Linked DNA regions of Homo sapiens. The protein of the gene in region 1 purifies or fractionates together with the protein of each later gene. This does not show direct contact. Each region holds a gene or a part of one and is shown in the gene's direction. Other genes may lie near its edges.

The links.
Region 2: the proteins of TSPYL1 (region 1) and DDX24 purify together in Homo sapiens (affinity purification with mass spectrometry; 4 studies listed by BioGRID and IntAct, with this or other methods). This does not show direct contact.
Region 3: the proteins of TSPYL1 (region 1) and ZNF687 purify together in Homo sapiens (affinity purification with mass spectrometry; 3 studies listed by BioGRID and IntAct, with this or other methods). This does not show direct contact.
Region 4: the proteins of TSPYL1 (region 1) and MRS2 purify together in Homo sapiens (affinity purification with mass spectrometry; 2 studies listed by BioGRID and IntAct, with this or other methods). This does not show direct contact.

Annotation. Positions count from the first base shown.
Region 1 is NC_000006.12:116,276,929-116,284,879, reverse strand, and holds the start of TSPYL1 (testis-specific Y-encoded-like protein 1), read left to right. Parts: upstream 1-4,949; 5' UTR 4,950-5,049; coding exon 5,050-6,363; 3' UTR 6,364-7,951.
Region 2 is NC_000014.9:94,057,203-94,064,202, reverse strand, and holds part of DDX24 (ATP-dependent RNA helicase DDX24), read left to right. Parts: intron 1-1,581; coding exon 1,582-2,106; intron 2,107-3,136; coding exon 3,137-3,290; intron 3,291-3,589; coding exon 3,590-4,105; intron 4,106-6,305; coding exon 6,306-6,381; intron 6,382-7,000. UniProt on the Homo sapiens protein: ATP-dependent RNA helicase that plays a role in various aspects of RNA metabolism including pre-mRNA splicing and is thereby involved in different biological processes such as cell cycle regulation or innate immunity.
Region 3 is NC_000001.11:151,285,278-151,292,432, forward strand, and holds the end of ZNF687 (zinc finger protein 687), read left to right. Parts: exon of another isoform or gene 1-797; intron 798-997; coding exon of another isoform or gene 998-1,014; coding exon 1,015-3,129; intron 3,130-3,250; coding exon 3,251-3,429; intron 3,430-3,817; coding exon 3,818-3,994; intron 3,995-4,100; coding exon 4,101-4,263; intron 4,264-4,400; coding exon 4,401-4,730; intron 4,731-4,844; coding exon 4,845-4,957; intron 4,958-5,154; coding exon 5,155-5,296; intron 5,297-5,437; coding exon 5,438-5,932; 3' UTR 5,933-6,899; downstream 6,900-7,155. UniProt on the Homo sapiens protein: May be involved in transcriptional regulation.
Region 4 is NC_000006.12:24,419,849-24,426,758, forward strand, and holds the end of MRS2 (magnesium transporter MRS2 homolog, mitochondrial isoform b precursor), read left to right. Parts: intron 1-3,088; coding exon 3,089-3,202; coding exon of another isoform or gene 3,203-3,208; exon of another isoform or gene 3,209-3,629; intron 3,630-3,735; coding exon 3,736-3,846; 3' UTR 3,847-6,342; downstream 6,343-6,910. UniProt on the Homo sapiens protein: Magnesium transporter that mediates the influx of magnesium into the mitochondrial matrix and regulates magnesium metabolism. Also permeable to calcium, sodium and potassium ions.

The DNA of each region.
Region 1 (7,951 bases):
TGGAATACTGTGCAGCCATAAAAAAGGATGAGGTCATGTCCTTTGTAGTGACATGGATGAAGCTGGAAATCATCATTCTGAGCAAACTATTGCAAGGACAGAAAACCAAACACTGCATATTATCACTCATAGGTGGGAATTGAACAATGAGAACACTTGGACACAGGGTGGGGAACATCACACACCGGGGCCTATCATGAGGTTGGGGGAGGGGGGAGGGGGGAGGGATAGCATTAGGAGATATACCTAATGTGTAAATGACGAGTTAATGGGTGCAGCACACCAACATGGCACAAGTATACATATGTAACAAACCTGCACATTGTGCACATGTACCCTAGAACTTAAAGTATAATAATAATAATAAAAAAAAGAAAGTGAGTTCACACTTGTTCAGAGAGTACAGGCTTTTGAGACAAACTTTCTGGGTTCGAATCATGGGTCTATTACTTTCTGTACCATTTTGGCCAAGTGACAGTCTCTCTTTGCCTCAGTTTCCTATTGAGTAACACGAAGGTCATAAATGCAATTACCTCATGGGGTTCTTATGACAACTAAAAGATGTGACACACTGGATGTTGTTTATAAAAGTGGCTGGTACATCAGGAGCAGTAAATAAGTGAAAGCTATCATTAATTATAATGATAAAACCTACCTTTCTGCAAAACAAAAATGTCTGAACTTCCGCTAAACTCCTTGCTACCTGAGAAATCATTCCCAAAGAATCTATGATTCCTTGATATTATGGAGAAAAACCTCAGGGTTTTTTGCAGATGTTTTCCCATAGAACTGTATTAGAAAAGATTCAACTATCTTTGGGGGTAGTGAAGTTTATTGTCAATTACAGAAATGCTCTGTCATGGACCAATTTATCCTATATTTTAAAGTGCAAAAAAGGTGATATATGAAGCATAGCCAAAATGTATTTCCTCTGCAAATAAAATATGCCAGTACAGATACACTGTTGTTTTTGTAAGATAATTTGAGGTTTATTTTATTCAAATGAACAAATATTGTTAAGAATCTACCCAAATCTAGCCGGGCGCAGTGGCTCATGCCTGTAATCCCAGCACTTTGGGAGGCTGAGGCGGGCGGATCACCTGAGGTCGGGAATTCGAGACCAGCCTGACCAACGTGGGGAAACCCCTTCTCTACTAAAAATACAAAAATTAGCCGTGTGTGGTGGCCAGTGTCTGTAGTCCCAGCTACACGGGAGGCTGAGGCAGGAGAATTGCTTGAACCTGGGAGGCAGAGGTTGCAGTGAGCCAAGATCATGCCACTGCACTCCAGCCTGGGCGACAGAGTGAGACTCCATAACAACAACAACAACAACAACAACAACAACAACAACAAAGAATCTACCCAAACCTGAGCCCCATGCTATGATGAATAAATGCAAAAGAAGCTGCAACTATGCTCCCATCCCATGAGATGATGCTGGAATGCTGGGATGATGAGACTGACACATATAAATCAACTAGTCCCTAAGAGGAGAAGCACAATTAAGTGCTAAACTGCATGGTGCAGCTCATAAAAGAGTTGCAGGAATTCAGGTGAGGAAGATTAAGGAGCCATAGGCTACTTAGGAAAGATGCACTCAGGAGAAGGGAGAAAGAATTTACCAGTTACTTTATGTATGACTTTGGTAAAGTTAGTTAGCCTCTCAGTGTTACTGTTTCCTCTTTTATGAAATTTGACACTTTAATGCATGTAAAATGCCTAGCACATTTTAAAGCAAGACAGGTTTTTGGTAAGTCTTAGAGAATGTGTAACATCTACCCAGAAAGAGAATTCCCAGATAGCAGGATAACCTGTGTCATGTAAAAGAAACAGGTATCCTTTTTAAGCCTTTTTAGATACAAAAAGGTGAACAAAAAATCCACAAGTAATAGTCCTACTATAATAAGTACAATATTCTGTGTTGAATAGCAACCACAGCTTTGCCTGTATGGCAAAATAACTCCCTGAGCACGTGAGCCTTGGTGCATGTTGACATTCCTAGAGAGTTCCTCCTTCCAAGCAAAGATTCTTTCTTTAAAAAAAAATAGGACATAAAGTATGCATATTTGCTTTTCCCTCTAAAATCCTTGCCCTTTACTGACCCTTCTCCTGAGCACTTGTCCGAAAGCAATCATAACCTGAGCTTTCCATCACCTACAAGGAATAGTTATAATCACAATCACTTCTCTAATGTAATTTTCTTCTAATACACAGAGAACATGAGATACATTACTTCTAATTTTAAATCACGTTCTCTATATATTCAAATATTCCTTATCACAGCTTTATACATGTTCGACAAGAAGAGAAGGAAGAGTTCCTTTAAAGAGTCTCAACGTTATTTGGGGGAAATTACATTCAGCAGAGTCCTGATTATACTTACATGATCCTAATTAGAGTTTTCCTAGCATTACTGGTAAGAGTGTTAATTACATTAATTACATAATGGCTTCTTTGACAAATAAAGCCATATATTCTAAGATTGGTCCAAGCCTGACACTCCTTTCTGCTTAAAAAAAAATAGGAGACATATTGGAATAATAGAAGTTTCCACTTTAGGCCGAATGAAATTATACCAGTTCAAAATAGAAGATGATTTCATGGCAATTAGAAACAGTCTTTGTGGAAAGTTCCAATATTCCTTTTTATTTACACCAAAAGTAATTCCAGCCATGCATCACAGGCTCCATCACTTGTAGAGAGAAATGCATTATATATTTCTGTAGACAGAAACGAAGTAAAGCCTGAAATGATTACCTTGACTTTTTCAGAAAGGAGAGAATTGGAAATACAGTGCTGGTAGTCCGAGGCTTTGATATGTAAACTCACCTAAATATGCTGGTCTTTTCAGAGTTCGTTTGTCATACAGTGTGACCACACAAACTTAAATTATTTGTAAAATAAAATTGTTTTCTCTGTGTTTTTCCTATCCTTTTAGAGCCTTTGAAACATATATAGAAATTCATTCTCCTGAGTAGGAAACTGTTACTATATAGAATAGAGCAGCCCTCTGGTTTGCCAGTGGCAGATAGGAAGGAGAGCAGAGTGACAACCCATATGCCCCTTACTTCTCTTCCGCAAGGAGCAAGTTGCAAGCAAGAGAAACTGTTTTCTGCTCATTTGCTCCTTTATTTAACATTTTAATAATCTATGGGATACTGTGTAAGGTAGTGTGCTAGGCACTCGATAAACAGAGGGAAACGAAACCATGATCATGTCCTCTTGCAGTTTACAGTCTCCTCAGATATCGTTTGTGGTATGTTTAGGCTTTAATTTTGTCTTTCTGTGCATTTGCCTAAGTATATTTCTGGTCTTGATATTGAAAGACAGATTCAAGCTGTAATACATCACAGCTGTTGGGCAGGAACTCACGGGAAGCCATGAGCAAGGTAGAAGGGGCTGCTATTAGAAACAACTTGAGGCACCCATAGATGCAACCAAACCTTAATCCAAGGTGTATTCATTTCATATTGCTTCTGTAACAAATTACCACAAATTTAATAGCTTAAAATGCACAAATTTATTTTCTTATAGTGCTGGAGTTTAGAGGTAATAACCTCAAGGTGTTGTCATTCCTTTGGAGGCTCTAGGATTGAATCTATTTCCTTACCTTTCAAGCTTCTAGAGGCTGCCTTTATTCCTACGATCCTGGCTCCTTCCTCCATCTTCAAAGCCAGCAACATAGCGATTTCCCTTTCCTCCCTCCCACACCTATTCTCCACCATTCCTTCCCTCTCTCTGTGCTTTCGTCCTCTTATCTTCTCTGACTGACCCTCCTGCCTCCTTCTTATAAGAAATTTGTAATTCCATAGGGCCCACCTGTATAATCCAGAATCATCTTCTCATCTCCAAATCTTTAACTTAATCATATCTGCGAAGTCCCTTTGGCCGCATAACTAAGACAGGTACATCTTTGAGGGCCATCAGGCTACTACCACACAAAGCAAATTAAGTAGAAAATAACGTTTGCCTCTTTTATACCTTGAGTCCACCAGCTGCATGTTGCCCTTTGCAAGTTTGTTTTCTACTTCAAGGCCATCTTAGTTGTCCATTTTAACTAGCCTTTCCTCACAAAATGGTGGTATGTGGCTCCCCCCACTGATATTTCTCTGAGGCCTTGTAGCTCTCTAAGACAGCACCAGTTTAACTCACAAGTCAACAAACTGGAACACTTCAACCAGAGACATTGACATCCCCCTCTAATGAACTCAGCTGATTGCTAAAGACAGATGCTTCGTTAGAGCCAAACATTCCTATCTTACATAACTAAATATGATAATAAATTAAGTTCTTGGGGCTGGAAATAGTTATAATTTCCTCTTTCTTGCAGTGAAAAGGCATGGAACATTTAGCAAACTGATCCTGGCTTAATTTCTACCGATACTATGCAGCACAAACTCTTATTTGATGCAGATTATAAATCGAAAATTAGCAATGAATACTATGCATCGCTTTAGTGGTAAGAGGCTGCTGAGTAGCTTTTTTTCCCCAGTAACCGTAGAGGCAAGAATTGATATTTTTATGTCACTTTTACTAAGAAGGGGGGAAACATTTTGCTATTAATCTTAAAGAGAAGTCTTTTGCTGCTAGTTACGTGGAGTAACAGGGAATAGATTTACCTTCCTGCCTCAAAAAAGTGAAGACCAGAAAAACATTTGTTTTCAGACACTGGAGAGCAGGCACTGTTACGGCTGTGATTTTACAACTGCTCCTACATGCTGGGAGCAGTCGCTAGATGCATCTCAAGGTGGGTCGTCCGCGCTTCCAGACTCAGCACAATCGACATTTATTTACGTAGGTAAAATTACTGTTGCTATGGGTAAATTCACAGAAATAAAGCCCAGAGAATCCGGTTGGCTGGCAGGGAGCGGCGGAACCAATCCCGGGCTCAGCAAGTTCTCGCGATACCGTGAGATCTCCAGTCCTGACGACACCGCCGCTGAAATGTTAGTGAGACTGTAGGGTGGGCGGTGCGAGCGGCGGTTAGCTCCCAGTTCGGCCTCTGAGGAAAACGGGCGTTCGCCTGCGGTTGGTCCGACTGTTAGCAACATGAGCGGCCTGGATGGGGTCAAGAGGACCACTCCCCTCCAAACCCACAGCATCATTATTTCTGACCAAGTCCCGAGCGACCAGGACGCACACCAGTACCTGAGGCTCCGCGACCAAAGCGAGGCGACACAGGTGATGGCGGAGCCGGGTGAGGGAGGCTCGGAGACCGTCGCGCTCCCGCCTCCACCGCCTTCAGAGGAGGGGGGCGTACCCCAGGATGCCGCGGGCCGTGGCGGTACTCCCCAGATCCGAGTTGTTGGGGGTCGCGGTCATGTGGCGATCAAAGCCGGGCAGGAAGAGGGCCAGCCTCCCGCCGAAGGCCTGGCAGCCGCTTCTGTGGTGATGGCAGCCGACCGCAGCCTGAAAAAGGGCGTTCAGGGTGGAGAGAAGGCCCTAGAAATCTGTGGCGCCCAGAGATCCGCGTCTGAGCTGACGGCGGGGGCGGAGGCTGAGGCGGAGGAGGTGAAGACAGGAAAGTGCGCCACCGTCTCAGCAGCCGTGGCTGAGAGGGAGAGCGCTGAGGTGGTGAAGGAAGGCCTGGCGGAGAAGGAGGTAATGGAGGAGCAGATGGAGGTAGAGGAGCAGCCGCCAGAAGGTGAAGAAATAGAAGTGGCGGAGGAGGATAGATTGGAGGAGGAGGCGAGGGAGGAAGAAGGGCCCTGGCCTTTGCATGAGGCTCTCCGCATGGACCCTCTGGAGGCCATCCAGCTGGAACTGGACACTGTGAATGCTCAGGCCGACAGGGCCTTCCAACAGCTGGAGCACAAGTTTGGGCGGATGCGTCGACACTACCTGGAGCGGAGGAACTACATCATTCAGAATATCCCGGGCTTCTGGATGACTGCTTTTCGAAACCACCCCCAGTTGTCCGCCATGATTAGGGGCCAAGATGCAGAGATGTTAAGGTACATAACCAATTTAGAGGTGAAGGAACTCAGACACCCTAGAACCGGTTGCAAGTTCAAGTTCTTCTTTAGAAGAAACCCCTACTTCAGAAACAAGCTGATTGTCAAGGAATATGAGGTAAGATCCTCCGGCCGAGTGGTGTCTCTTTCTACTCCAATTATATGGCGCAGGGGGCATGAACCCCAGTCCTTCATTCGCAGAAACCAAGACCTCATCTGCAGCTTCTTCACTTGGTTTTCAGACCACAGCCTTCCAGAGTCCGACAAAATTGCTGAGATTATTAAAGAGGATCTGTGGCCAAATCCACTGCAATACTACCTGTTGCGTGAAGGAGTCCGTAGAGCCCGACGTCGCCCGCTAAGGGAGCCTGTAGAGATCCCCAGGCCCTTTGGGTTCCAGTCTGGTTAACATTTGCCCTTGGGAATACTCCTGCACAAGGTCTCCTACCACCTTCTGCTGGACCTGTGCTTGGGCATCAGCAATGAGTATGCCTTCTATTGTGCTTTGTTTTTGCTGACTTTTCTGCACCCTGTTTCCTTTGGATATTCAGTTCTCTCAACCTCAAGATTGAGACGGTGGTGGGTATGCTTCTCCACTTCCATATGACCTTCATGCTGTTCTGGAATATCACATGCTACGAGGTCATCCTTCACACTACTTGTAAGCCAAGCAAATGATACTGTAGATTGTACTGCCTTTATCTGCACTGCTTGGACCCTGTTTATTCCCAGGGCCTCTGAACTGGTTGCTGTCACTTGGATTTCTAGCTTTGGGAGCCTGTTCCACCTACTCAGCTCTGCATTGAGCAGTATGGGCACATGCCCTGTGGACAGTTACTGGACGTTAATGAACTCAGAGGAGAAAAGCAGTGAGCCACTTGTTCTGTGTGATTTATGGTACTTCATTGCTCTTCCTTCACCTCTAGTCACTTTCTATTGCTACCTGCCCTACATTGGCTCCTGCCAAGGTCCCTCTCTCTCCCTGTTTTCCTTTTTTTTTTTTTTTTTTTTTTTTTTGAGACGGAGGACGGAGTCTTGCTCTGTCGCCCAGGTTGGAGTGCAGTGGCGCGATCTCGGCTCACTGCAACCTCCACCTCCCGGGTTCAAGCGATTCTCCTGCCTCAGCCTCCCGAGTAGCTGGGACTACAGGCGCGCGCCGCCACGCCCGGCTAATTTTTATATTTTTAGTAGAGACGGGGTTTCACCATGCTGGCCAGGCTGGTCTCGAACCCCGATCTCGTGATCCGCCCTCCTTAGCCTCCCAATCCTCTCTTAAAAAAGTGATAGCTCAGAAACATTTGTAAAAGCAAGGTTTTTATTTCATTTTGGCTCTGTCATTTTCAGAGGCAAAGAAGTTGGCCTGTAAAATAGAGTGCTAGAGCTCTTACGCCCCTCCCCTTCTTCCCAACTTCCTACTTCCTAGCCCTTTTATCAACTCCTAGAATAGTTAAAGAGAGACACATCTAGATGGGATGAAAGGTGCCCTAAGCAGGAGAAACTGAACAAAAGGCTAGAGGCATGGGCCAGGTAAAAATTGGGCCTAGAGTGAAGACTGTGCTGTCGTTAAGAGCTTTCGAGGAAGGAGTACTTACTCCCCAATGATGATGAATGGAAAAATACTTTTCAGGGAGAATTGAAGGGGTTAAAGTGTTAAATATGTTGCCTAGACAAGGGTTCTTTAAAGAAAGACAGCGCAACTTTGAATGCTTTCTTACTTGTTTTGTGACCTAATTTATGTGGAAGATTGTTATTTCATTAGGATTTAGTAAAATTTTTTTTTCTGATTCTAAACTTATTGTGAAAATTGAGCTGTACAGATATTCTTTTGATTTCAATTGGGAACATTTGGAAGAACAACAGTCTTACTTGCCTGTACAATATAGAGACATATGAATAGTCATAACAGTTTTCAACTTGTTCTTGTTTCTGTTAAACTATATTCCTAGAAACATAGTTTGAACAACTTGGTCTTTGTTAGGCTTGTCAAATTGCCTTCA
Region 2 (7,000 bases), on another chromosome or scaffold:
ATTTTATCTTTTTTGTTGTCTTATTAGCTATAATTCTTAACGTCTTTTTAGTGATTGCTTTGGGGTTTATAGTATATATCTTTTATTATAGTTTACCCTCAAGTAATTTACTACTTCGCATACAATGTAAGAACCTTACAAGAGTATTTTCCATTTCTCCCCTCCTTTGTGCTTTTTGTTGTATACTTCATATGTGTTAGAGATTCTAGAATACATTTTTATTATATTTGCTTTAAACAATTATTTTTAAAGATGTTTAAATAAGAAAAATAAGGGGTTTTGTTTTTTTGTTTGTTTTTAGAGACAGTATCTCCCTCTGTCACCCATGCTGGAGTGCAGTGGCACGATCATGGCTCACTGCAGCCTCAAACTCCCATGCTCAAGCAATCCTCCTGCCTCAGCCTCCCAAGTTTCGAAGACTACAGGAGTGTGCCACCATGCCTGGCAAATTTTTTTAAAGATGGGAGTCTCACTATGTTGCCCAGGCTGGTCTTGATCCTCCCGCCTAGACCTCCCCAAGTGTTGGGATTACAGGCATGAGCCACCATGCCTGGCCATAAAAAGAAGTTTTTAAATATTTACCTACGTAGTTACTGTTTCGGTTGCTCTTTATTTCTTTGGGTACATCCAGATTTTCATTTTATGTTATCTTTGCTATTGCATGAAAGACTAATATTTCTGATAGCTTACATTTGCTGCTGGTGAATTATTTCAGCTTTTATATGCCTAAAGTCTTTATTTCACATTTTGTTTTGAGTGGGTGTAGGGTTATAGATTGTCAGGGTTTTATTTTTAGGCATTCAAATAAAAAATATTGCTACACTGTCTTCTGGCTTTTCATTGTTTCTGATAAGTCTGCTGTTCTTCTTATCAAAAGTTTCATGTGTCTGTTTTTGCTCTCTTTTTTCCTTATAGTATCTTATTTTTGTGTGTGTGGTTATTTTTTACTGAGAGCTGCTTATTTCCTTTGAAAATTGTGAAAATTTTTGGAGATGTATGGTAATGGTTTCTCCCTTGAGAAAGCATTTATTGGCTTCTGCCTAGGGCATTATCACTTTGGAACTTCTTTAAATTCTCAGCCTGAGATGTTTTGTTTTGACCACCCAGATGATTTGGACTCTGTGTACATTCAAAGGCCAGTTTGAAAATGTTCAGGCATAGACAAAAGTTTTATATTTACATTTTCTGAAAACTTAAGAAAATTTTCTTTTACTCCTTTCTCACCAAAGAAAAGTCTTGGGAAAGTATTGTATGGATTACTGTTTCCTGCTCCTCACAGAAACAACACATACACCCAAAACTTGCCCTTTCTCTCTTTATTGTTTCATTTCTTGGACATTTGTAATTCGTTACTGGTGACCTAAGACCTCAGTGCTAGCCTGCCATACTTTTCCTCGGGTTCTAATTTACATGTGCCTTCTGGTTCCTTCTGGGGAAATCTGTGTAGAGTGGAGGAGCTTTGGGTCGGTCAGGGTGGCACTTGGCTACCTTATTCTATGCAAAAGAATGAATTCCAGACTAAAGTATGTTCATCTGTTGATTCACACTGTTTTTACTTTGTTTTGTTTTTTTACTTTTAAGGAAGTGGGAAAACTCTTGCCTTTGCCATCCCAATGATTCATGCGGTGTTGCAGTGGCAGAAGAGGAATGCTGCCCCTCCTCCAAGTAACACCGAAGCACCACCTGGAGAGACCAGAACTGAGGCCGGAGCTGAGACTAGATCACCAGGCAAGGCTGAAGCTGAGTCTGATGCATTGCCTGACGATACTGTAATTGAGAGTGAAGCACTGCCCAGTGATATTGCAGCCGAGGCCAGAGCCAAGACTGGAGGCACTGTCTCAGACCAGGCGTTGCTCTTTGGTGACGATGATGCTGGTGAAGGGCCTTCTTCCCTGATCAGGGAGAAACCTGTTCCCAAACAGAATGAGAATGAGGAGGAAAATCTTGATAAAGAGCAGACTGGAAATCTAAAACAGGAGTTGGATGACAAAAGCGCCACCTGTAAGGCATATCCAAAGCGTCCTCTGCTTGGACTGGTTCTGACTCCCACTCGAGAGCTGGCCGTCCAGGTCAAACAGCACATTGATGCTGTGGCCAGGTTTACAGGTGAGGTTTAGTTCCATTTAATAAATATTTTCTAGGTAAATCCCAAATGCTCGTTGGTAAAGATGAATGAGCTGTGGCTCCTGCCCTCTAGGGTAAGCCACTCTCATCTATAAGCCAGACAATTAAGCCCTACAGAAAATTGATATAGTGACATTTTTTCAGTTCCCTCAAGGATAATACATGGTTGGTGCCATTGTGGATGCATAGGAAATTTATTGGATACAGTAGATGCTCAGGGCAGGGATTAGCAAACTGTCTGGTTTTATAAATAAAGTTTTGCCGGAACACACCCACACCCATTTGGTTTTATATTGTCTGTGGTTGGTTTTGTACTACAAAGGTGAAGTTGAGTAGAGTTAATAGTTGTGACAGAGACCATCTGGCCTATGAGGTCAGTAATGTTCACTAGTGACCCTTTCAGAAAAAGTTGGCTGATCCCTGCTCTAAGCTATTAGGATTTAATTCTCTCAGGGAATTCACTCTGGGAAGGGCTTCACTCTGGGAATCTTAATTTTATAATGAAAGCAGCAATTAATTACCAAGTTGTTACTATTGCTAAGCCCTTTACCCACATGATACTATGAGAATTTCTGCACCAGAGACGAAAACAACAGGGCATTAGTGGACCTTTCAGAATAATTCTAACTGAGGGAATGGAAGGGCTTCCTAGGAGAGGTGTAGCACAGCTGCAGGTCATATTCCTCCCAGCATTATGGTGCCCCAGTGCTCCGTTTTCCCAGAGCTTTGGAGGTAAGCATACCTGGGTTCAAATTCAGCCCCTTTGGTGTGGTTGGAGGGGAGGGAGTAGAAAAGAAATGAGGCTGAAGAAGTAGAGCTCAGATCACAGAAGACTTGGTAAGCCCTCTAGGAGTGGCGTCAACAGTCTGGCCAGGCCTGCTCTTTTAGCAATGCTCTAGGGCATTACACTGTGCTGATGTCTGTCTCTGCTAATCTGGGGTGCCTGTGTCAGCCATGTAAGAAAATGATCACCCAGATTGAATAAGTGTCCCTTATGTTTTCTGTCCCATAGGAATTAAAACTGCTATTTTGGTTGGTGGAATGTCCACGCAGAAACAGCAGAGGATGCTGAACCGTCGTCCTGAGATTGTGGTTGCTACTCCAGGCCGGCTGTGGGAATTAATTAAAGAAAAGCATTATCATTTGAGGAACCTTCGGCAGCTCAGGTAATAGATGGCACTTCTCTTTTCCCCCTCACTGCCTTTTCTGAAATGAGCCTTAGGTGACATGGTGTGGGCAATGCCTTCTTCTCATCGCAGAATGCTATGGTGTGGTATCATCCAGACCCTGGCCTTTAGAAAGCCAAGAGTGCATGAGGGAGATTAGTTGAGGGCCTGATGGTGGTGGTGGTAGTGGGGTGTGTACGTGTGTGTGTGTGTGTGTTTAGGATGAGTGTAGGGTGTGCTATAGATGATTCCTCTTAACCCGCTGCTGACCAATGATATGGGTCTCTCTGGATCTGCAGGTGCCTGGTAGTGGATGAGGCTGACCGGATGGTTGAGAAAGGCCATTTTGCTGAGCTCTCACAGCTGCTAGAGATGCTCAATGACTCCCAATACAACCCAAAGAGACAAACGCTTGTTTTTTCTGCCACACTCACCCTGGTGCATCAGGCTCCTGCTCGAATCCTTCATAAGAAGCACACCAAGAAAATGGATAAAACAGCCAAACTTGACCTCCTTATGCAGAAAATTGGCATGAGGGGCAAGCCCAAGGTCATTGACCTCACAAGGAATGAGGCCACGGTGGAGACGCTAACAGAGACCAAGATCCATTGTGAGACTGATGAGAAAGACTTCTACTTGTACTACTTCCTGATGCAGTATCCAGGCCGCAGCTTAGTGTTTGCCAACAGTATCTCCTGCATCAAACGCCTCTCTGGGCTCCTCAAAGTCCTTGATATCATGCCCTTGACCCTGCATGCCTGTATGCACCAGAAGCAGAGGCTCAGAAACCTGGAGCAGTTTGCCCGTCTGGAAGAGTAAGTTAGGACTGTCCCCAGAGGCTTAACCTCTAGTTAGTTACTGGGGTAAAAGGGGTCAGGATGGTGGGGAAATGGTAGAAAAGCCACCTTCTGTCATAGGGGCCTTGTCTCAGTAGTAGGTAGCCTTTTTTTTTTTTTGCACAGCATTTGGCAAGGTTACTGTCATTTAGTGAATTTGGTTGCAGTTAAATGCCATACAGAAACTTCAATACTAATGAATATAGGTGACAATACATAATATTGAATGTATAGACAATAGATTAGGTCCTGTGCTGGCACTTTAGATTCAGAATCACATTCAGTTACTCTCCTAACATCCTTAAGAGGAAGCAGAATAGATTCATGGTTAAGAGCACAGATCCTGGAACCAGAATGCCTGAAATCAAATCCTAGTTCTGTCACTCCTTAGGTGGTCAAGTTATTTAATTTCTCTGTACTTTAATTTTCTCATTATTTGGATAATAATAGAACCCATTCTAGGGTTGTTATGAAGATTGATTGTAAATTCATGCGTGTAAAGTGTTTAGAACAGTCTCTAGCACATAGTATGTATATATTGCTAAATGTTAGCTTTAATAATTTCTAGTCCCTTTACTACTTATTACCATTATCACTATTCTCATTTATAGATGGAAAAATGAGGTCTAGAAAAGCTGATCAGTGTGCCCAAGGTTTCTCTGCCTGGAAGTGGTAGAGCTGGGCCTCAGACAAGCCTGTCGGACCTCAGAGCCCATGCTATTTCTTATTCCTGATGTCTTTGTCCATCTGCCTTTGGACCAGACTGATGCTCAGGGAATGGGGTGCAGATTGTCAAGATGAGGGCCTGGAAAGTTGAGGCAGACTACAAAGTGTCTTTTGCCAGTGTTTTGTCAGGTCATGGGGTAATTAGTTTCTAGAACAAGTGTTTGATTTACTGGTTTTTAAAAATTGGTAAGTAGTATCAGTGGTTTACTGAGATTAGCTTAGAACAAGGCTTGGCAAACTATAGGCCTCGTGCCAAATCTTGCTTGCTGCCCTTTTTTTTTCTAAGATGGGGTCTTGCTATGTTGCCCAGGTTAGACTTGAACTCACGGGCTCAAGCAATCCCACCTTAGCCTCCTAAGTAGCTAGGACTACCAGTGCATGCCATCACACCTGGCTGCTGCCTGTTTTTTTAGTAGACGTTTTACTGGAACACAGCAAGACCCATTTATGTATTGTCAATATCCTCTTTTGCGGCAGAGTTGAATAGTTGCCATAGAGACTGTGTGGTTCACAAAGCTGGAAATGCTCTCTGGCTCTTTACAGAAAAAGTTTGCTGACCTTGATCCAGAGCAGTAGTTTAATGTTTTACAAACTAGGATTTGCATTGCATTTCCCGGCCTCAGCTCAGACATGCAGGGAGTGAGGACCCTGAAGGGCCAGAGTCTTATGTTTTGAAGCACCTCAAGTACTTTTGACTTTCCATGAACCACACATTGAGAAACATCATCCAACACATTTATCAAGTGCTTACCATGAACCAGATGTTGTTCTCTGTGGTGGTAATAACAGCAGTGAGTAATGCAAAGTCCTTGCTCTCATGAAGCTTACATTCTAGTAGAGGGAGATAATAAATTGCAAAGTAAGCCCACAGTCTGCCAAGTGATCCTAAGAAGTAAGTCGAGCAGGGGTTGGAGAAAAGAGATTGGGTATGTGTGGTCAGTCTCTGATGAAGTGAGAATTGAGCAGAGAGCTGAAGAAAGTAATGAAGTGAGTCATATGGACATCTGAGGCAAGACCCTTTAAGGCCTTAAGGAGTAGCAAGTGCAAAGGCTTGGAGGTGAGAGCATGCTTGGTTTGTTTGGGGAAGAGCAAGGAAGTCTGTGTGCCACTGGGAGGAAGTAAATGAGAGGGTGCTAGGAGAGGAGTCACTGACCCAGAATATGTATGGCCTCATTTAACTCACTGAAGGGAGTCTTTATCATTGCAGAGTATGGCATGTTGGTTGGGGTCAATGAGTCCCAAATTTGGATCCAGACTCCACAGCTGAATAGCCATGTAGATAGCTTGGGAAGTTAATCTCTCCGAGCCTCAGTTTTTCTGTAAAAGGGTATACAAGTGATATCTTACAGAGTATTGGTAAGGACTGTAATGTTTAGGATGCTCAGCAGTTGGTAAGAATTTGATTAAAGATAGCTGTTAGTTATTATTAATAAGCTTTCTCTCTCTACCCCAGCTGTGTTCTCTTGGCAACAGATGTGGCAGCTCGGGGTCTGGATATTCCTAAAGTCCAGCATGTCATCCATTACCAGGTAGGGGCATCTGAAAATTTATAGGCATCTGCCTGCACTGAATGGGGAATTTTTAAGGCAAAGGTTGGGGGAGGGAGGAGGAATTGTTGGTTCCAAGGCTCTTGCATCAGAGAATACCACTGGCATCGAGTGCCCACTACTCCCACTTTTGCAACACTGCTGAGATTTGGTCTCCAGAAAACCTTGCTTTGTCTCATGTCAAGTAGCCCTTCTCTCCAAGCTACTTGATATTGTCAGGTTAGAGTCTTAGTTTTTTCTGTGAAATGGGCATAAGTTAAGCATGTAATTGGTTACCCTGATGTAGAGAAGTATTAATAGAAGAGTGTGGTAGTTTAGATCTCTCTGGGCTCAAATCCCAGCTGTGTAACCTTGAACAAGTCATGTAATCTCTCTGTATCTCAGTTTTCTCATGTATTAAATGGCAGTGAGTACCTGCTTCTTAGGGTTCTTACTGAGGTAAAATAAGTTACTAAGTATAAAGAGCTTAAGAAGCCACCTGGCACATTGCAAGCACTTACTCATGTTAACTGCCATTGATAGTAGCAGTAATATTAGTGTGTGCATCTAGTGAATATCAGCATAAAATTTTGGTTAGGAGTATGGGCACCGGAGCCAGACT
Region 3 (7,155 bases), on another chromosome or scaffold:
CCTTAAACCTAGAACATCATGTACATCATCCTCCTTAATAATAGTATTGATTATTTGGTTCTATGCTGGGGACCGGAGGGGATGAGATGGTTTCCACCAGAATGCTCACTGAGCTCTATTACCCTTCCCTGTTCCCTGTATTTTTTTTTTTTTTCTGAGACAGTCTTGCTCTGTCGCCCAGGTGGGAGTGCAGTGGCACGATCTCAGCTCACTGCAAACTCCACCTCCCAGGTTCAAGCAATTCTTCTGCCTCAGCCTCCCGAGTAGCTGGGACTACAGGTGTGTGCTGCCATGCCCAGCTAATTTTTGTATTTTTAGTAGAGACGGGGTTTCACTATCTTGGCCAGGATGGTCTTGATCTCCTGACCTCGTGATCCGCCCGCCTCTGCCTCCCCAAGTGCTGGGATTACAGGCGTGAGCCACCATGCCCAGCCCCCTATATTTCTTTTTTTTGAGACAGGGTCTCGCTCTGTCCAGGCTGGAGTGCAGTGGCGTGATCTTGGCTCATTGAAACCTCAACCTCATGGGTTCAGGCGATTCTCCTGCCTCAGCCTCCTTTGTAGCTGCGATTACAGGCATGTGCCACCACACCTGTCTAGTTTTTTGTATTTTTAGTAGAGACAAGGTTTCACCATGTTGGCCAAGCTGGTCTCAAACTCCTGACCTCAAGTGATCCATCTGCCTCAGCCTCCCAAAACGCTGGGATTACAAGCATGAGCCACCGCACCTGGCCCCTTCCCTGTATTTCTAAGAACTCTCTTTTCCCCTGCTTTCTCTGGATTTTGGAGCCCACCAAGGTATGGACACTAATCCTCTTCTGATTTTAAGGTTTGGCAAACCTAGCAGCTCTGTAGGATTCATGCCGTGGCGGAGGTGTACCTAAGTTGGAGTGTATGTGGGTTCTGAGAGAGGATAAATATGGAGATGCTGAGGGAAGAGCTCCAGGATCTCTCTTCTAGACATCTCAGTTTCTCCTCCTCGTTCCTGTTTTCATCAGGTCTGGGATCTGCCGATATGGGGGATATGAAGACCCCTGATTTTGATGACCTCCTTGCTGCCTTTGACATCCCTGACATTGATGCGAATGAAGCCATCCATTCTGGGCCAGAAGAAAATGAGGGGCCTGGAGGCCCAGGGAAGCCAGAACCAGGTGTAGGAAGTGAATCTGAAGACACAGCAGCAGCCTCTGCTGGGGATGGCCCTGGAGTTCCAGCCCAGGCCTCTGACCATGGCCTGCCACCGCCAGACATTTCTGTAGTCAGTGTCATTGTCAAGAACACTGTGTGTCCCGAGCAGTCTGAGGCCCTGGCTGGAGGCTCAGCAGGAGACGGGGCCCAGGCTGCTGGGGTAACTAAAGAAGGGCCTGTGGGGCCTCATCGAATGCAGAATGGTTTTGGGAGCCCTGAACCTTCCCTCCCAGGAACTCCCCACTCTCCTGCTCCTCCCAGTGGGGGCACCTGGAAAGAAAAAGGCATGGAAGGCAAAACTCCCTTGGACCTGTTTGCTCATTTTGGCCCTGAGCCAGGGGACCACTCAGATCCGCTGCCTCCCTCTGCACCCTCTCCCACTCGGGAGGGGGCTCTGACCCCGCCTCCTTTCCCCTCTTCCTTTGAGCTGGCCCAGGAGAATGGCCCAGGCATGCAGCCACCTGTTTCTTCCCCACCATTGGGGGCCTTGAAGCAGGAGAGCTGCAGCCCCCATCATCCCCAGGTCCTAGCCCAACAAGGCTCAGGCTCCAGCCCTAAGGCCACGGACATCCCTGCCAGTGCCTCGCCTCCCCCAGTTGCTGGGGTGCCCTTCTTCAAGCAGTCTCCAGGGCACCAGAGCCCTCTTGCCTCCCCCAAAGTGCCCGTCTGTCAGCCCTTGAAGGAAGAAGATGATGATGAGGGGCCAGTGGACAAGTCTTCCCCAGGAAGTCCCCAGAGTCCCTCTAGTGGGGCCGAGGCTGCAGATGAGGACAGCAATGACTCCCCTGCCTCCAGCTCCTCTAGGCCTCTTAAGGTGCGGATCAAGACCATTAAAACATCCTGCGGGAATATCACAAGGACTGTAACTCAGGTCCCCTCAGATCCTGATCCACCTGCCCCCTTGGCTGAGGGGGCCTTCTTGGCTGAGGCTAGCCTCTTGAAGCTGTCCCCTGCAACACCTACTTCTGAGGGTCCAAAGGTGGTGAGCGTACAGTTGGGTGATGGTACAAGGCTGAAAGGCACTGTGCTGCCTGTGGCCACCATCCAGAACGCCAGTACTGCCATGCTGATGGCAGCCAGTGTGGCTCGCAAGGCTGTGGTGCTGCCTGGGGGGACTGCCACCAGCCCTAAGATGATTGCTAAGAACGTGCTAGGCCTGGTGCCCCAAGCCCTGCCTAAGGCTGACGGGCGGGCAGGGCTGGGGACTGGGGGACAGAAGGTGAATGGTGCCTCGGTGGTGATGGTGCAACCTTCAAAGACAGCTACTGGGCCAAGTACAGGGGGCGGCACAGTGATATCACGGACCCAGTCCAGCCTGGTGGAGGCCTTCAACAAGATCCTCAACAGCAAGAACCTGCTCCCTGCCTATAGGCCAAACCTGAGCCCACCAGCTGAGGCTGGGCTGGCCCTGCCTCCCACCGGCTACCGCTGCCTGGAGTGTGGGGATGCCTTCTCATTGGAGAAGAGCCTGGCACGGCACTATGACCGTCGGAGCATGCGCATCGAGGTCACCTGCAACCACTGCGCCCGCCGCCTGGTCTTCTTCAACAAGTGCAGCCTGCTCCTGCATGCACGTGAACACAAGGACAAGGGGCTCGTCATGCAGTGCTCACATTTGGTCATGAGGCCTGTAGCCCTTGACCAGATGGTGGGGCAGCCGGACATCACACCGCTGCTGCCTGTAGCTGTCCCACCTGTCTCTGGACCTCTGGCCTTGCCTGCCTTGGGCAAGGGTGAGGGGGCCATCACCTCCTCTGCCATTACTACAGTTGCTGCTGAGGCCCCTGTCCTGCCGCTCTCCACAGAGCCGCCTGCTGCCCCGGCCACCTCTGCTTACACATGCTTTCGCTGCCTGGAGTGCAAGGAACAGTGCCGGGACAAGGCTGGCATGGCAGCTCACTTCCAGCAGCTCGGCCCCCCTGCCCCTGGGGCCACCAGCAATGTGAGTCACCTTTCACAGCCCTTCTGTGGGGACAGGATCTAGGAAGGCGTTGGGGGCTTGGTTAGAAGTAATGGAGACAGGACACTCCTCACCGACTTTCCTTGTTTAACCCACTCGACAGGTGTGCCCAACCTGCCCCATGATGCTCCCCAATCGCTGCAGCTTCAGCGCCCACCAGCGCATGCATAAGAATCGACCCCCCCATGTCTGTCCTGAGTGTGGGGGCAACTTCCTGCAAGCCAATTTTCAGACCCATCTCCGGGAGGCCTGTCTGCACGTCTCTCGCCGTGTAGGATACAGGTGCCTCGGACCCTTCCTCCATAGAACTGTAGGGTTTCGTGTGTCCTAGCCTCAGCCTCAGATGGCCTTTCAAGATCCCCTATCTTCCCTGCTATATCCCTCAGCCCTGTTGTTTTGCCAGACTCAACCCTGAGATAGTACGTCCTGCCTTCCCGTCGTCCCCCATGGAGATGGGGGGAAGCAGGGCCACCTCTGGAGCTCCAGCTCTCCCTTGGCAGCCTCCCTTGGGGCACAGCCTCTGCACCTCTCTCCTTTCTCCACCCTGCTCATGCTCCACTACTGATTTCCTTCTTGTAGTCTACCCAGTCCCAGAGAATAAATGTATGGTCCCGGGGTGGGCATGGAGATGCCTCCCACCTCACCACAGGGCCTCCTGCTTCCTCCCTAGGTGCCCCAGCTGTTCAGTGGTGTTTGGGGGTGTGAACTCCATCAAGTCCCACATCCAGACGTCGCACTGCGAGGTTTTCCACAAGTGCCCCATCTGCCCCATGGCCTTCAAGTCTGGGCCAAGTGCCCATGCCCACCTCTACTCCCAGCATCCCAGCTTCCAAACTCAGCAGGCCAAGTGAGGCCCGGGGGAGGGCCGGGCTGGGCCAGGGAGGGCTGGTGGGGCGCAGGAGGGGAGGGGCTGCACCCAACCCTGCCTGATGTCTGCACTGTCCTCACTTCAGGCTGATCTACAAGTGCGCCATGTGCGACACAGTCTTCACTCACAAACCCCTCCTCTCCTCACACTTCGACCAGCACTTGCTGCCCCAGCGTGTCAGTGTCTTTAAGTGCCCGTCTTGTCCTCTGCTCTTTGCCCAAAAAAGGACCATGCTGGAACATCTCAAGGTACAGGAGCAGAGGGATGGGGAATGGGTGCTTAGCTGTACTGACCTGGGGCTGGGGCCACATACTTCAGAAGTGGGGGGCTTTGGCATAGCCAGGCCCTCCCCCACAACAGCAACCTCCCTTGTCTCCTCTCACAGAACACCCATCAGTCTGGGCGCTTGGAGGAGACTGCTGGGAAAGGGGCCGGGGGTGCCCTGCTGACCCCCAAGACTGAGCCTGAGGAGCTGGCTGTTTCTCAGGGAGGGGCAGCCCCTGCTACTGAGGAGTCGTCTTCATCTTCAGAAGAGGAGGAAGTACCCAGCTCCCCTGAGCCCCCCCGTCCAGCCAAACGGCCTCGGCGGGAACTAGGGAGCAAAGGCCTCAAGGGTGGGGGTGGGGGGCCTGGAGGCTGGACCTGTGGCCTGTGTCACTCCTGGTTCCCTGAGCGTGATGAATACGTGGCCCACATGAAGAAGGAGCATGGCAAGGTGAGTGGGCCCCAAGGGGAGTACCATGGGCTGGGGGCAGCATTGGGACTGCCAGTGTGACAGTGGGGACGGGGTCCTGGAGCCTGGCTCTGACATCTACCCCTGCTCTCCTAGTCAGTGAAAAAGTTCCCCTGTCGCCTGTGTGAGCGCTCCTTCTGCTCCGCCCCCAGCCTGAGGCGCCATGTCAGAGTTAATCACGAGGGCATCAAGCGAGTTTACCCCTGCAGGTAAGTCTTGCTCCCCGCTTCCTCTTCCTGCCCAGCACGTGACTCTCCCTGTATGCCAAAGTACCTGTGCACCTGCGACGTGTCTAAGTGGCCTGATGGTTGGGGTCTCCCTCTGCTCTGGCAGCCCCCTCCTCAGAAGCAAGGGCCCTGGCCTTCGGGCTGTGCCGCTGCTGCCATCCTGTCCTCTCCCATTTCAGGTATTGCACAGAGGGAAAACGCACCTTCAGCAGCCGCCTGATCCTAGAGAAACATGTCCAGGTCCGGCACGGCTTGCAGCTTGGGGCCCAGTCCCCTGGCCGGGGGACCACCTTGGCTCGGGGTTCCAGTGCCAGAGCCCAGGTAGGCAGAGGCCCGGCCTGCTGTGCTAGGGCTTTGAGTGGGAAACTGGAAGGCAGAGACCATGGCCTCAGGAAGCGAGCATGGGGGTGCCAGGGACAGTAGGGGTGGTGGTAAGGCCCAGTTTCTTCCACTTTTCTTCAGGGGCCAGGTCGGAAACGCCGCCAGTCTTCTGACTCTTGCAGTGAGGAGCCTGACAGCACGACACCGCCAGCCAAGTCCCCCAGGGGCGGACCTGGATCTGGAGGCCATGGCCCTCTGCGCTACCGGAGCAGCAGCTCCACAGAACAGAGCCTCATGATGGGGTTGAGGGTGGAGGATGGTGCCCAGCAGTGCCTCGACTGTGGCTTGTGCTTTGCCTCCCCTGGCTCCCTGAGCCGACACCGTTTCATCAGCCACAAGAAGAGACGGGGTGTGGGTAAAGCCAGTGCCCTGGGGCTGGGGGATGGGGAGGAAGAGGCCCCTCCATCAAGGTCTGACCCCGATGGTGGAGACTCACCCCTGCCTGCTTCTGGAGGCCCACTGACCTGTAAGGTCTGTGGCAAGAGCTGCGACAGCCCTCTAAACCTCAAGACCCACTTCCGCACGCATGGCATGGCGTTCATCAGGGCTCGGCAGGGGGCTGTTGGGGACAACTAGTCTCCAAGGCCTGGGACTGACCAGCCCCTTCCTCTTGGAGCCTGGTTTTCCCTACTGCTGCCTGATCCCTCGGCTGGGGAGTTTTCATTAACATTAATATTTTGTTAATTCCTGTCTCTCCAACCTGAAGAAGAAGAGCATTTGAGGATTATTCTAGTTATTTGCAACCTCCCTTTGGGTTTGGCCCTGGAGTCCTAGTAGAGTGGACCCTCCATTCCTCCTTTCTGAGCCCAACACTAATTAATTTTATGCTCCTGCTGCAGAACCCCCAGTGTGGGCCTGGGGGTGGGAGGATGGGACTTAGGTATGCCTGCTAGACAGGTTCAGGGAAGGACTGATGGGGGTGTCATGGATGGACACACCTCTCCACAATTCCTTCAGGCATGGACTGGAACTTTCCTCCTCTAGGCCGGGCCCTGCCCTAGTGCCCACCCCCGCCCCCGCCCCCGCCCAACCCCAACTCACTGGCACTCAAGCCCCCTACCCCTGCAGTGCCTTTCACTTCTTTTTTTCCCCAGAAATCCGGGGCGGGGGGGTGGGGGGTTGGTAGGGATGAGTCCTGTCAAGGGGGCCACAGGAGAGGAGGGGACAGGCTCTCAGGAATCCTTTATTCTTGTAGTAATAATAATACTAACAAACAGTTGGGGAACTAGGGAGAAAACCAGACCATTAAAACTGTTTGTGGTCGAATCTCCATTCAGGCCTCTCTTTTTCTGTGACTTGGACAATGTGGAGTTGAAGCGGGTGAGAGAACATGGAAGGCCCGCCCTTCTCAGGGAAGAGGTGGTAGTGACCAAGACAGGCAGGGAAAAAGCAAACTTCTATGTAGTGCCTTTTGTATCTTGGACACTGAGGCATCCGTTCATACCTCATCACCCATCTCCCCCTGCACTCCCCCAGAAAACCTGGAAATGACACAAGTGGCTAACTAAGGACTTTATTTCAAACAAAAATTAAAAATAAAAAATTGAGAGCTCTTTTCCCTGGGTTTGGGGAAGGAGTCAGGGTAGGGAATTCCACATGGCTAGGCCAGTACCCTCAGTACACTGGAGGGCTGTGGGAATTCCCTTCCTTGCCCATGATGGGGAACCTCAGCAAGTGCAGGGCCCACGCAGCGCCCGCCAGCAAGGGGAGCTTGGGCCAGGGGTCGGTCCCTGGGAGGGGTAGGTCCCTGGGAGGGGTAGAGCTGGGCAGCAGCATGGCCAGTGGCCAACCACAGGATC
Region 4 (6,910 bases), about 92 Mb from region 1:
ACAGAACCCACTGACTGTGTTTTCACAGAATAGCTTATTGTAAGTTTTCTAGAACTGAACCTGGATGTGCATCTGGCACAGTGTGATGCTGGATTCTGTGTCCTCATTAGTCTAACGAGTCTACTCTGTTGCCCACATCACCTCCCATTAGGACCACTATGCCCTTTTAAAAAGTGGTCTTTATAAGATGTAAGTATTATGACACCCTTCTGCATACAACTATTCAATGGCTTTTGATTAGCCTTAGGATAAAAATCCCGTCCTGCCGCACCGACTTGTCCATCTTGTGGGTAGCCACTTGTTACTACCTCTCTCAGTGTCCTTCCCAGACATGCTGCTTCCACTCCTCTCCCCTCAGATCCCCGTTTTGCTTAGTTACTTCCTCCTCATCTTTCAGGTCTCAAAGTAGTTGTCCCTTCACTGAATGCACCGACAACCTGGCCCAGTAAAGTTACTTTGTCGTCTGCGCCCAAATAATCCTACCCTTCCATCTGCTACATTCCTTAAATCTGCAATCCCTTGTTCAAAGCCTGCAAAAGAGCATGAGCTCCTTGAAGCAAAGACAGTATTAGTCATTTTTAATGTAAAGTATAAAAGAAAAGGAAATACATGTGTTCATTCATCTCACAAATACGTTTTTTTATTGCCTGTTATATACCAAGCACTGCTTTAGGCCCATTTAGCAGTGAGTCTGCCCTTGCGTAGGTTATATTGTAGTGGAGGAGAGAGTTCATAAACAAACAAAGTATGTTAAGTGCTAAGTGCCTCAGAGAAAAATAAAGCCAGAGAAGCGGATAGAGAATGTTAGGCAGTAGGATGTGTGGCATTTTAGAGATAGGGTGGTCAAGGAAGATGTAAGGCGGTAACACCCTGGTGGAGGCAGGAAGATCTGGGGGAGAGTGTTCTAAGTAGAGGGAACCACAGAAGTAAAGATTGAGGCAGGAACGATCTGAGCTTGTTCATGAAATGGCAAGAAGGTTGGAATGGTTAGAAGAGCATGAGTCAGGTGGAAAATGAGGTCCCAGATGCAGATAAGTATGATCATGTCAGTGACGTAGAGCGTGGTAGGGGTTTGGATTTCTAAGTGGGATAGGAACCCACTGGAGGTTTGAACTCAAATCTAGATCATTGGAAAGTTCAGAAGCAAGCAGAATACCTTGTGCAACATAATCCAGCCATTGACATTCTCAAAAGATACATCCAAAGACCTTTACAGATTCCCTAAGTGTGACTACAGGACTTTCTCTACAAGTCCCTGTCTTTTCTCTAAATACATAATCATGTTTATGTATATATACTCAATCTACAAGCTAACTCCATTTTATACTTTGATATTTTTCTCTCACTTAATTGCCAACTTTTCAAAACAATGGAAGATTTTTCAAATTCCTTTCTTATAGTTTTAGTATGTGCAATCCTAGGTACAGCACAGCCCATTTGTAATGAGATAAGAGTGGTAGGTGGTAGTGAGCTACGCTTGCTCAGTAGTAGGCTGAAAAGATTCAAATTAATGTCTTATCAGAATTACAAATTACACATCTTTGTAGGTGTCCTGAAGAATAGTTGAAAACATTAAATCCATGGATGTCAAATGTCTTTATTTCGATATAGTTAAAATTAATATTTGCCATGGTGAATCTGAGATAGGAAAAATATTTTAAGATAATTTCAGACTTCTGGAAAAGTTCCAAGAATAGTCAAAGAATTTCCATTTTCTTAAACCAGATTCCAAATATCAACATTTTATCACATTTGCTTTATCATTTCTTTGCTAGCATACTTTATTCTCTAAATTATTTGAGACTAAGAACAAATGTGATGTTCCTTTACTCCTAAATGTCTTAATACGTATTTCCTAAAACATGGACATCCTCTTACATAACCACAGTGCAGCTATCAAAATCAGGAAGTTAATACTGAAGTTATTTTCCAATCTAAAGACCCTACTCAGATTTTGCCACTTATCTCAGTAGTGCTTTTTATCACAAAGAAAATCTTAGATCACATATTGCATATAGGACTGGGGGTTGTGGTTCACACCTGTAATCCCAGCACTTTGGTAGGCCAAGGTGGGCAGATCACTTTAGGCCAGGAGTTCGAGACCAGCCTGACCAACATGGTGAAACCCCATCTCTACTAAAAATACAAAAATTAGCTGGGCATGGTGCCGCACACCTGTAATCCCAGCTACTCAGGGGGGCCGAGGCACAAGAATCGCTTGAATCAGGTAGACGGAGGTTGCAGTGAGCCAAGATTGAGCCACTGGACTCCATCCTGGGTGAAGAGCAAGACTCCATCTCAACAACAACAAAAAGAGGAGGCAGATTTCTGTTCAATAAGTGACATGCATTTCCATCAGTGATAGCTGATCAGTTGTGTAACAGGCTATCTTTGAGGAAGTGAGCTCTCAATCATTGGAGCCAATGATAACAGCATAGCTATAAATGGGATTCCTTCCTTGTGAGAGATTAAATTTAAATTCTGTGATTCTGTACATTAACTAAAAACAGTGTGCTGCAAAATATTACCACTCTGAAAATGACGGTGAGGAAGAATGTTTTTCTAAGTCTGAGGTTCCCAAACTTCCTTGGATCACGATGCCCTTAGTGTCTTAGTAATTTTTTCACAGTATCGGAAGACAAAAAATTTATTATGTTACAGATTCCTTTATGTTATTTCCCTTGCAACTTTAAAATATTCTGAGGTGCTATCGTGCCCAGCATAGCACCAGACATTCAGCTCACAGTTTGAGAACTGTGGATATAAGCAAAGACCTTAAATTGCGTGTCCTCTGGCATCATGACTTAAGATTTGCACGCATGTAAACAAAGGCTGCAAAGAAACACAAAGTAAAAGCAGTACATTTGGCATATAGATGATTTTAAAATATTTAAAACCTTTTAAATCATGTTCTTCTCCTGCTTTATTCTGTGGGTGCTATCAAGGCCCTTGTTTTTCTTAGTTCCTTTCTACAGGAAAGAGCTGTACAAATAACATAAGGCTTTCAAACTCTGGGGCAGTAACAATTCAAGGAATCTTCTAAGGAACCTGGCGTTTTGCGATGGAAATGAACTGTGTTCTCTTTTAGGACCATAGAATTTTTTGGCTGATTACAGGAATTATGTTCATGGGAAGTGGCCTCATCTGGAGGCGCCTGCTTTCATTCCTTGGACGACAGCTAGAAGCTCCATTGCCTCCTATGGTATGAAGGATATGGTTCACGGCGGTATTGTGGAAGGGTTATGATCATGGGCCCTAAAGTCAGAGCGCCTGGGATTAAGTTGTCACAGGCACTATGGCCCTTGCGAGTTGCTTTCTCAAACTTCCTTCAGTTTCCCTATCTGTCAGTTAAGTCGGTATTACCTGCTTCATAGGGTTATGGGAAGAATTAAACAATATGTGTAAAGCACTTACTAGCACACTGCCTAACACAATAAGTTAGAAATATAATTTGTGTAGAACTCTGACAACATACATTTAAACAGATGTTAGTAATTCTGGTATAAGGTTTGTCATAACCAAATGGAAATGTAGGAAACATTTATAACGTTCTTAAAAGATAGAAAATTCACCTCCATTTTCTTTGTACTTGAAGATGGCACCACTGGAATAAATACTTAAGACACTGATACTGCTTATAGTCCTTTCTTCACTGAGTAGTTACATAATACATCATTTTACTAGTGGCTTTTCTTTTAAAAAAGATACTAAAATTAATACTTCTGCTTTATTTAGATGGCTTCTTTACCTAAAAAGACTCTTCTGGCAGATAGAAGCATGGAATTGAAAAATAGCCTCAGACTGGATGGACTTGGATCAGGAAGGAGCATCCTAACAAACCGTTAGGAACAGCCCCGTGGATACTGAAGTTTTTTTTATGGTAGTTACAGGAAACTTCTGATACTCTTTTTATTATTTTCTTGTATAGAGTCAGACACTTGAAAAAAACTAATGTTTGAAGACAAAAATATTTTGGCAGTCACAATACCAGAACTGGATTGCATTTCCAGAATTCTGAGTTAAAGAAACAAAGTATTTGCTTTGTAAAAGGCCAAAATTCTATTTCCTACAAACTTTAAATGCTGTTTTTATAGATGTGATATGAGGCAACACAAGCACAGACAGTTGCATAGATTTTAATTTATACATATCAAGAAAAGTGCAATTTCATGCTGAATGAAGCGTAGGAACTTGACAAGCCCATAGGTAGCTATAGTTCTTTGTCAGTATAGGGAATTATGTTCATGTGAATTTCCTGATTCTCAGGTGACTAAAAAGCTAGCATTCTATGTATTAACCTTACAACAGACTCTGTAAGTTTGAGCTTTAAAAACCAAACTTTGACATAACCTTATTTCTTGTATTTGCCCCCTTTTTTTTATAAAAGGTGAATAAAAAGAAATAATTTAATATCACCATTGTATGGATTCCTAATCAAGATTTCACGTTCTCAGCCCCTGAGACTAGTTTTCTTTGCTCTCTGTAATTAGAGCCTTTGGAAGCAAAGTTGAAAGGAAGTATTTCCATTCTGTTACTGTTTTGTAGCACTTTGTCCATTTATTGATTTTTAAAGTAGATATTTAGATACCACCCCTGCCCTGCCCCAAAAAGAAAAATGTTTATTGTCCTGCTAATCTATATGCCTACACCTCAGAAGCTGACAGATGAGCTTCCTAAAACATGAGGATGAATAAATGTTAGAACTGTGATATCTTCTCATTTCCACAGAGATTTGGGTTTAAAACAAATGGCTAATATTTGTAAGCCTGAAAGCTGCCATCCTCTTTAACATCCTACCTACCTTTTAAAATATTTTCTGGAGGTTAAGTACAGTTAGGCACTAGAACATTTGTTAAGCCTCCCAAAGTAGTGTGCATGGAAGATTCTAGAGTGTCCAGCTCTTGCACTACAAATGTAATAATAACAGAATAAATACACTTACCCTGATGATATTGAGGGTACATGATTAGCCTAATGTGATGTCATATGAGGAAGTTTAGGAGTCCATTTTTCAGGTGGTTTGGTGATAGGAATAAAAATGTTACTCCCGTCGCTGATTTGGAAGAAAACCGATGAAGTACAAGTAAGGTTTCCCCACTCCTGTGTGTGGTCATGGGAAGCCATTAGAGGGAAGCTGCAGAACAGAATGGAACAGGACAGGCTGGGCTAGACTCGAGCACGCAGTGGCCCCTGTGCCACCACACTGTGGGTCAGGAACACGCGTCATGGTGTTCTTGTCGGAATGTGAACATACAGCACCCTCTAGCATTACGAATCTCTTAGGATTTTTAAGATTGTATTTGATAATACTTATATTTCACAGGGCACACTTTTGGCACACCTCAGAGCACACTGCTGCTATTTTGGGTCGTATCACTGTAAAATACATAATAAGTACTACTTAACTGTGACATGAAGAATTGGAATCCCAGAGGGCAACATTTGATTTGACTAAGATCAGGCATAAGATAGAATTTTTGTCATTTTTCCTTGCAGTTTTATTGACTTAGTTTATGAGCTTGGATAAAATAATTTTTTGATGAATCATGTCAATAAAAGGAAAAATAATGTAACTACCTCATAAGTCTGATAAAAGGAAGTTGCTAGTGTTTTATAGAATTTCTGAAGGTGGTTAAATCAAGTATGATTTCAAAATATCAACTAGTTCCACTTTTGTGATTGCAGGATGCTTCTTATACTAAAGTTCTCATAAATAATAAATCAGCTTATGCCAAAAATATATGAAGTTCCTTGGTTTTAAATTTTGAACTAAAATGGACTGAGCACATTAATTACTGTTTGAAAGTAGGTACCAAACACTGGGTTATGTGAGTGAGTAAGCAATCATATCGCCTGTCAAACACATCAAGTGTCGAACACGTCAAGGTGTGATACTGTCTTTGGAAGGCTCCTAAACAAATGTGAGCACAATTATTAACACCTTATTCTTCATGAACACAGACTGTTAAGCAGCACTAACCAATTTTATATTAAAAAGCTATTTATTTTGGTGAGTTATTCCAAGAGTTGTATACAGCTTTATTTTTTGGAATTGCAATATTAAAGTTGCACGTTGGATTTAACTCTCATGACTTTAGTAATACCTACAGAGGTGAGCTAATGGATGGTACATGGAGTAGGGACTGCAGAGACCCTAGTTTTGTCCCCACTCCATCTTCAAATAATTTTGGTCTCTTAGGTCTGTGATACAAAGGCATAAAACAATTCCTATCTTGAAGCCTTGAGAAAAGCTGTTACATATACGCAGATAGTAGCAAGACAGAAAATGCAAATATGTAAATGTCTTCTGATATCTTGAAATAAAGATAAATTTCAGTTAAACTTGTATAAGTTCAGATTTCTGTTAATGAGAAATTACAACCCTACAAGGTAAGGTCTTTACATTTTAGTTATTAAGCAGAATCAATGCTTAAAACTATAGTTAATACTTAGTGGAAAGAAAATTTAATCCATGTATCAGGATAATATATTAGACTGTCATGCATTAATTTTTTCCTGTATGCCAGGTTTTTTACATACGTGCCATATCAGTTGACCTTTTACAGTAGGAGTATAATTTACATTGTTTTTGACATTGGGGTTAGTATGGTTAAATGTCCTATAAACTTGAAGCTTGCTTCCATTTTTGTGGGTCTTAACCTCCACCTGGTGCTTGCTATTGGGTGTATTCAGGCATTGAGAAAAATATAAATCGTGAGGTAAATAATGGTCATGTTTAAACAGAGGCCTTATCATTTAGTGAAGCATAAAAACTGACACTATATAAATGCATCCGTCTAATGAAAAGACCCAGTACTGAGAAAAACATCCCTTTACTCAAGTGTCAGATGTCAGAGTGCTCTAACTGCTCAACTCATAAGTGAATACAACTAAGTAATTTCTGGTCCCC